2 linked regions of the Homo sapiens genome follow. The protein of the gene in region 1 interacts with the protein of each later gene in a pairwise test. Each region holds a gene or a part of one and is shown in the gene's direction. Other genes may lie near its edges. The genes, in order: BATF2 and DEDD.

Evidence for each region.
Region 2: the proteins of BATF2 (region 1) and DEDD interact in a two-hybrid assay, tested with the Homo sapiens proteins (one large-scale study listed by BioGRID and IntAct).

What each region holds. Positions count from the first base shown.
Region 1 is NC_000011.10:64,987,323-64,990,900, reverse strand, and holds the end of BATF2 (basic leucine zipper transcriptional factor ATF-like 2), read left to right. Parts: intron 1-623; exon of another isoform or gene 624-758; coding exon of another isoform or gene 759-827; intron 828-1,088; coding exon 1,089-1,772; 3' UTR 1,773-2,956; downstream 2,957-3,578.
Region 2 is NC_000001.11:161,122,667-161,126,480, reverse strand, and holds part of DEDD (death effector domain-containing protein), read left to right. Parts: intron 1-1,035; exon of another isoform or gene 1,036-1,954; 5' UTR 1,955-2,018; coding exon 2,019-2,343; intron 2,344-2,534; coding exon 2,535-2,642; intron 2,643-3,259; coding exon 3,260-3,406; coding exon of another isoform or gene 3,407-3,496; intron 3,497-3,814. UniProt on the Homo sapiens protein: A scaffold protein that directs CASP3 to certain substrates and facilitates their ordered degradation during apoptosis. May also play a role in mediating CASP3 cleavage of KRT18. Regulates degradation of intermediate filaments during apoptosis.

The sequences.
Region 1 (3,578 bases):
GAGAATGGTGTGAACCTGGGAGCTTGAGCTTGCAGTGAGCCGAGATCGAGCCACTGCACTCCAGCCTGGGCGACAGAGCCAGACTCCATCTCAAAAAAAAGAACTTTGAGTCCAGGGCCAAAACCACATTTTTATGCAAAACACCTTTGCAACTTCTTCTTTCAAAGTGTCCAGAAAAGGGGGTGGGGGACTGAAGGAAGTCGTTCAATTTATTCAGCCCTGTGAGATGTGGATATAAAATTCTTTCTGCATTTTTACCATTACTGTCATCATAAATGGTTATTTAGAACTGCACATTGATTGTGTCTCAGGGGTTCTCAGAACCGGCGTTCAGCAGAACAGAACTTAATAAATGCTGATTCAGGGATGCAGAATCGAACACACTCATGCTGTCAACCTGTAAAACAATCCCCTGAATCCTCCCACAGTGCTCGTAGGGGCGAGTTCTGGGCCCTCAAAAGGGCAGTGGCAATAAGCAATCTAGGACAGAATGACATCAAGGTTGCCACGGGAAGGCCCTGTTGGGATTTGCACAGAGAAGGGCGGCGGAAGGGTGTCCAGGCAGAGGAAACAGGAAATGTGGCCGGGAAGCAGAGTTCATGTGAGGGTCAGGAAGGGAGGGGAGCAAGAAAGAAGGCGAGAGAGAGGAGACCGGAGGTCTGAGCTGCAGCCACTACACAGGCCTGGAATTCTACCACAGGGAATTTGGTGGGTGCCTCTAAAGGGCTTTAACCTGCAATTAATGACATGGTTGCTGAATGGCTCCTGTGGGCAAGAGAATAGGTGGTTTGGGGGACACACGGGTTGGAGGCCCGTGCATATCCCAGGTGAGAAATGGCACCGGCTCAGGGCACTAGTGGTGGGATGACAGCAGGCGGATCTGAGCCCCCTTCAGAGGGTGGGACAGGGGAGACTTGGTAGGTGGTTATGAAGGGCTGGCCAGAGAGTGGCCAAGAGACCCCACTTGGCTATTCCAATGGTGGTGGCATCTTTCTCCTGAAGTTGAGGACCCTGGAAGGGGCTAAGGCTCATGCGGGGCCCCTGACACTGGCTGAGGTTCCCCTCCCCGCCCATCTGCTTCTCTGCAGCAGCACGAGTCTCTGGAAAAAGACAACCTCGCCCTGCGGAAGGAGATCCAGTCCCTGCAGGCCGAGCTGGCGTGGTGGAGCCGGACCCTGCACGTGCATGAGCGCCTGTGCCCCATGGATTGTGCCTCCTGCTCAGCTCCAGGGCTCCTGGGCTGCTGGGACCAGGCTGAGGGGCTCCTGGGCCCTGGCCCACAGGGACAACATGGCTGCCGGGAGCAGCTGGAGCTGTTCCAGACCCCGGGTTCCTGTTACCCAGCTCAGCCGCTCTCTCCAGGTCCACAGCCTCATGATTCTCCCAGCCTCCTCCAGTGCCCCCTGCCCTCACTGTCCCTTGGCCCCGCTGTGGTTGCTGAACCTCCTGTCCAGCTGTCCCCCAGCCCTCTCCTGTTTGCCTCGCACACTGGTTCCAGCCTGCAGGGGTCTTCCTCTAAGCTCAGTGCCCTCCAGCCCAGCCTCACGGCCCAAACTGCCCCTCCACAGCCCCTCGAGCTGGAGCATCCCACCAGAGGGAAGCTGGGGTCCTCTCCCGACAACCCTTCCTCTGCCCTGGGGCTTGCACGTCTGCAGAGCAGGGAGCACAAACCTGCTCTCTCAGCAGCCACTTGGCAAGGGCTGGTTGTGGATCCCAGCCCTCACCCTCTCCTGGCCTTTCCTCTGCTCTCCTCTGCTCAAGTCCACTTCTAACCTGGTCTTCGGAGCTGGGTTGGCCCCTTCTTTGGGCTCAGGAAGCAGCCTTAGCACACGGGCCTCTCCTCCCTCACTACTGGGTGCTGCCCTGCGTGGCTGACCAGCTGGCCCAGGATTTCACAGTCGAAAAGGAAGCCACCACTGATGCCTCCCACTGTGACAGGCCCTGTCACCACCAATATCTTATTTCAACCTCACAGTTGACCTGAGAAATCGAGATTATCACTCCACTTTTTCAGACAAGGAAACTGAGGCTCAGGGAAGCCAAGTGACAAGTCCAAGGTCACGAAGACTTTCTTGGAGCCCGAAACACCACCCTCTGCTCCTCCTTCTCCTGTCCTGGCCCAGGCATCCTAGGGGCTGAAATCCTGGAAACCGTGGGCTGGTGTGAGAAGGTTTGCATGCTCAGAGCAGAGAAGGGCTCTCCCCACTGCTTCGTGATTCCAGGGCCAGAGCCATGCAGTCCCAGAAACCCCAACCTAGCTGGGGCAGGTCCAGAGTCCAAGCCCTGGTGGGTAGAGGCCAAGCAGAAGCCCTGAAGTGGACTCTTGCTTCCCCTAGTAGTGTTTTCAGTGCCAAGAAGCTGAAACTGTGAGCTGGAGTTGGGGAGAGGTCTGGAAGAGGACCATCTGGGATTTCTACAGCCTGGGTACCCATAGCCACACCAAGGCTTCTGGGAGATTCTGCAGGGTCAGCTTTCCAGGCTGTTCCCAAATAGCTCCCTGCCTCCCCACTGCCCCTAAAGCCACAGCAGAAGAGCCATTCATCTCATAAACAAAAAGGAAGAGGAAAGAATGAGGAAGGACCCTGTGCAAGGTTATTTGCAGGCAGGGATGGGCTTGTACCTGACAGCACCCACCCCTGTGTGGCCCCCAGGCCCTCATCACCCTCAGACCCCTCCTAAGCAGTTCCCTCATTGCTCTTTGGACTAGGCTGACAGCAGGAAGAGCAGGGCCCATGACCGGGTGGAAGTTCAGTTTTGGTGTCTGCTTCAAGAGGGGGTTTTACACTCTGATTCCAGGACAAGCACTCTGAGGCGGGTGGGGGAGAGAAACCCTGGCTCTTCACCCAGGTTTCACACACATGTAAATGAAACACTATGTTAGTATCTAACACACTCCTGGATACAGAACACAAGTCTTGGCACATATGTGATGGAAATAAAGTGTTTTGCAATCTTTTCTGCTTTGCCTAGTTACTTAAACCTCTCTTTGTAACCTACAGAGTCTTTGAAAAAAGAGAGAATAACAGAGATGGGCAACCCCTCATGAACCAGCTAATTAATCTCCCTCCAATACTACAGATGAGGAAACTGAGGCTCAGAGATGAGACGGACTTGCGCAGGTGTATTAGTCAGTGTTCTCTAGAGAAATAGAACCAATAGAGTGTGTGTGTGTGTGTGTGTGTGTGTGTGTGAAGACAGAGAGATTTTTTTTTTAATGTTGTTTTTTTTTTGAGATGGAGTTTCACTCTTGTCACCCAGGCTGGAGTGCAATGGTGCAATCTCGGCTCACTGCAACCTTCGCCTCCCGGGCTCAAGTGATTCTCCTGCCTCAGCCTCCCAAGTAGTGGGGATTACAGGTGCCCACCACCACACCCAGCTAATTTTTTCCTTTTTTTGAGACAGAATCTCGCTCTGTCGCCCAGGCTGGAGTGCAGTGGTGCAATCTCGGCTCACTGCAAGCTCCGCCTCCCGGGTTCACGCCATTCTCCTGACTCAGTCTCCTGGACTACAGGCGCCTGCCACCATGCCCGGCTAATTTTTTTTTTTTTTTTTTTTTTGTATTTTTAGTAGAGACAGGG
Region 2 (3,814 bases), on another chromosome or scaffold:
TCCCAGCTACTCGGGAAGCTGAGGCAGGAGAATCGCTTGAACCTGGGAGGCGGAGGTTGCAGTGAGCCAAGATCGCGCCACTGCACTGCAGCCTGGGCGACAGAGTGACTCTGTCTCAAAAAAAAAAAAAAAAAAAAGAGTTTGGAGTGTTCTTATAGATAACGATGGGGCAATCAATGGGTCTGAAGCAGGAAAGTGACTTGGTCAGTTGTGGACTTCAGACAGCTAACTGAACTAGATGTGGCAGTGGATGGATTTAGGTAGGTTAAGATTGGTGTTGCAGAGAACTTTTAAAGTTACAGTAGTCCAGGTGAGAGATTATTGTAATCTGAACCATGGCAGTGGAGGTGGAAAGGTAGGATAGATTTAAGAAATATCTAGAAGTAGCATTAACAGGAATTTAGGATTGATTGTGTGATTGGAGAGTGTGACCAGAGAGTGCACAGTATAGGATGGTACTGTCTGGTGGAGCAGTAAGTATGAGTGACTTGAGTCAAAGTTGTTGAATTTGGGAATTGATTAATGGCTGCGTCATTGGTATTACCTGTAGCCCATAACGATGGAGGAACTTTGTGAATCAAGAGCCAAACTATATAACGAATGTGGAGCTGTGATTGGTCATTGATAGGGGATTGGTAAATGACATCCATGAGGAAAGCTTAGAAGGTGGTATTGCCAAGGCCAGGTACGGTGGCTCACGCCTGTAATCCCAGCACTTTGGGAGGCCGAGGTGGGTGGATCACCTGAGGTCAGGAGTTCAAGACCAGCCTGACCATCATGGTAAAAACCCATCTCTACTAAAAATACAAAAATTAGCAAGACGTGGTGGTGCGTGCCTGTAATCCCAGCTACTTGGGAGGCTGAGGCACGAGAATTGCTTGAACCTGGGAGGCGGAGGTTGCAGTGAGCCGAGATTGCACCACTGCACTCCAGCCTGGGTGACAAAGTGAGACTCCATCTCAAAAAAAAAAAGTTGATATTGCCAAATAGGGTGAAGATCAAGGGAGTACAAATGGCATAGAATTACAAGAATGCTTATTGTAGAAACTTAATGTTTATTTTAAATCCATGAGTTTTGGTAAATATTGATAAACTTTCTGAGCAGTTATCATTTCTTGATGTGGTTGGATTGTAGGAAAAATGTGGAGGGATGATTCTGGGCTGCAAAGGCCAAGGATGCTTGTATCTTTGAAATGTTTCACAACCATTTATATAAGGGTTACCCGTGATTTTCTCATTGGATTCTTAACAACTCTGAGGTGTATATTCATTCATCCCTGTTTATAGATGACAGCACTGAGAATCTGGAGTTAAGTGACTTGCTTACGGTCACACAGCTACACAGCCTTTCAGTGATACAGTCAGAATTTAAACTAGTTCTTTTTTTTCCGAGATGGGGGACTCACTCTGTCACCCAGGCTACAGTGCAGGATTATGGCTCACTGCAGCCTTGAACTCCTGGGCTCAAGTGATCCTCCTGCCTCAGCCTCCTGAGTAGCAGGGACTACAGGCACATGCCACCATGCCTTGCTAATTTTTTTCTTTTTTGTAGAGATGGGGTCTTGCTATGTTGACCAGGCTGATCTTGAACTCCTGGCCTCAAGCCTTCCTCCCACCTCAGCCTCCTGTGCAGCTGGGACTACAGGCGTGTACCACCAAGCCCAGCTAATTTTTTCTTTTTTTGTAGAAACGGGTCTCCCTATGTTGCCCAGGCTGGTCTTAAACGCCTGGGCTCAAGTGATCCTCCTGCCTTGGCCTCCCAAAATGCTGGGATTACAGGTGTGAGCCCCTGTGCCTGGCCAGTGTTTATTTTTAAACAAACACTTCAAAAATTTAATAAACATGTATAAAGCACTATACTGTGCCAGGCATTGTTAGCAACTGGGAATATGGGAATGCATGAGACTAGTTCCTGCCCTTGAGTGTCTCATCGGTTCTTTCCCTGCCCTTTCAGTACGGTGGGGATTGCAGCTGCTGAGCAGGGATTCTGGAAAGCATTGCGTACCTGAGCCCCCAGCATGGCGGGCCTAAAGCGGCGGGCAAGCCAGGTGTGGCCAGAAGAGCATGGTGAGCAGGAACATGGGCTGTACAGCCTGCACCGCATGTTTGACATCGTGGGCACTCATCTGACACACAGAGATGTGCGCGTGCTTTCTTTCCTCTTTGTTGATGTCATTGATGACCACGAGCGTGGACTCATCCGAAATGGACGTGACTTCTTATTGGCACTGGAGCGCCAGGGCCGCTGTGATGAAAGTAACTTTCGCCAGGTGCTGCAGCTGCTGCGCATCATCACTCGCCACGACCTGCTGCCCTACGTCACCCTCAAGAGGAGACGGGCTGGTGAGGAAGTATTAGGGGCTGGAATCAGGGAAGAGTTGTGGGAGGCCAGGAAGGAGCAGCATAGGCGTCCAAAGGGGAGGACACATTGATCCTGGGGAGTACTTAGAGTAAGTTGTGAGGCCCACTGGGGGTTTGGACTGACAGAAGGGAAGGGTGTATATTTTCCTGAATGATTACTTCTCCTCCTACAGTGTGCCCTGATCTTGTAGACAAGTATCTGGAGGAGACATCAATTCGCTATGTGACCCCCAGAGCCCTCAGTGATCCAGAACCAAGGCCTCCCCAGCCCTCTAAAACAGGTGAGAAGACATTAACTCCCCCTGCTTTCCATCATCAAGTAAAAGGACACTGATCCCATCACATTCTGGGCTTTGCCAGCTTAAATGAAAGGATGCTGTGCGCCCACATCTTGCCCCATAAAAAAAAAAAATCAGGCGAGGTGACATTTCTCCTAGGTCCTGTATTTGCTCTCACATGTCTTGTCTTTTTTTTTTTTTTTTTTGAGACAGAGTCTCCCTCTGTCGCCCAGGCTGGAGTGCAGTGGCGCAATCTCGGTTCACTGCAAGCCCCACTTCCCAGGTGCACGCCATTCTCCTGCCTCAGCCTCCTGAGTAGCTGGGACTACAGGCGCCCGCCAGCACGCCCAGCTAATTTTTTGTATTTTTAGAGACGGGGTTTCACCGTGTTAGCCAGGATGGTCTCGATCTCCTGACCTCATGATCCACCCGCCTTGGCCTCCCAAAGTGCTGGGATTACAGGCGTGAGCCACTGCACCTGGTCTCACATGTCTTTTCAAGTCACATTTTTCCACTGCTTTTAGTGCTAAGTCTAAATGATTCCTTCCTCATTCCAACAGAAGTGTTTGAATTTCTGCCTTTACCCTACTGTGTTTTCTTCCCTTTTACTTTCTGGTCAGTGCCTCCCCACTATCCTGTGGTGTGTTGCCCCACTTCGGGTCCTCAGATGTGTAGCAAGCGGCCAGCCCGAGGGAGAGCCACACTTGGGAGCCAGCGAAAACGCCGGAAGTCAGTGACACCAGATCCCAAGGAGAAGCAGACATGTGGTGAGGAAGTTCAAGGGTTCCAGAGATGGAGCAGACTTGAAGGAGAATATAAAGAACTGCTGGGACACTGGGCAGTTTATGCTATTCAGTGTGAGATTCACTTTGATTGCCATTGCAAAGTGAGGCTGAATGGTTTGGTGTCTGGTGGAAGAACTGCTCTTTATGATTGTGGCAGGGTACATTTCAACTCTTGTTAGTTAATACTACATCACAGGGATGTTGTTATGACATCCTTATTGTAGGATGAGCCAAGTCGAGTATTAAAATGAACTTCTATGCCTGGTAATTAGGAAAATATCTCCTATAAACAAGTTGCTACCTGTGAGTAATGGGAACAGTGCTGACCTCGGCATGTCCCGTTTAAGGGAACCTCCTGCATTCAGGCAAGGATTTCAGAGATACATAGAA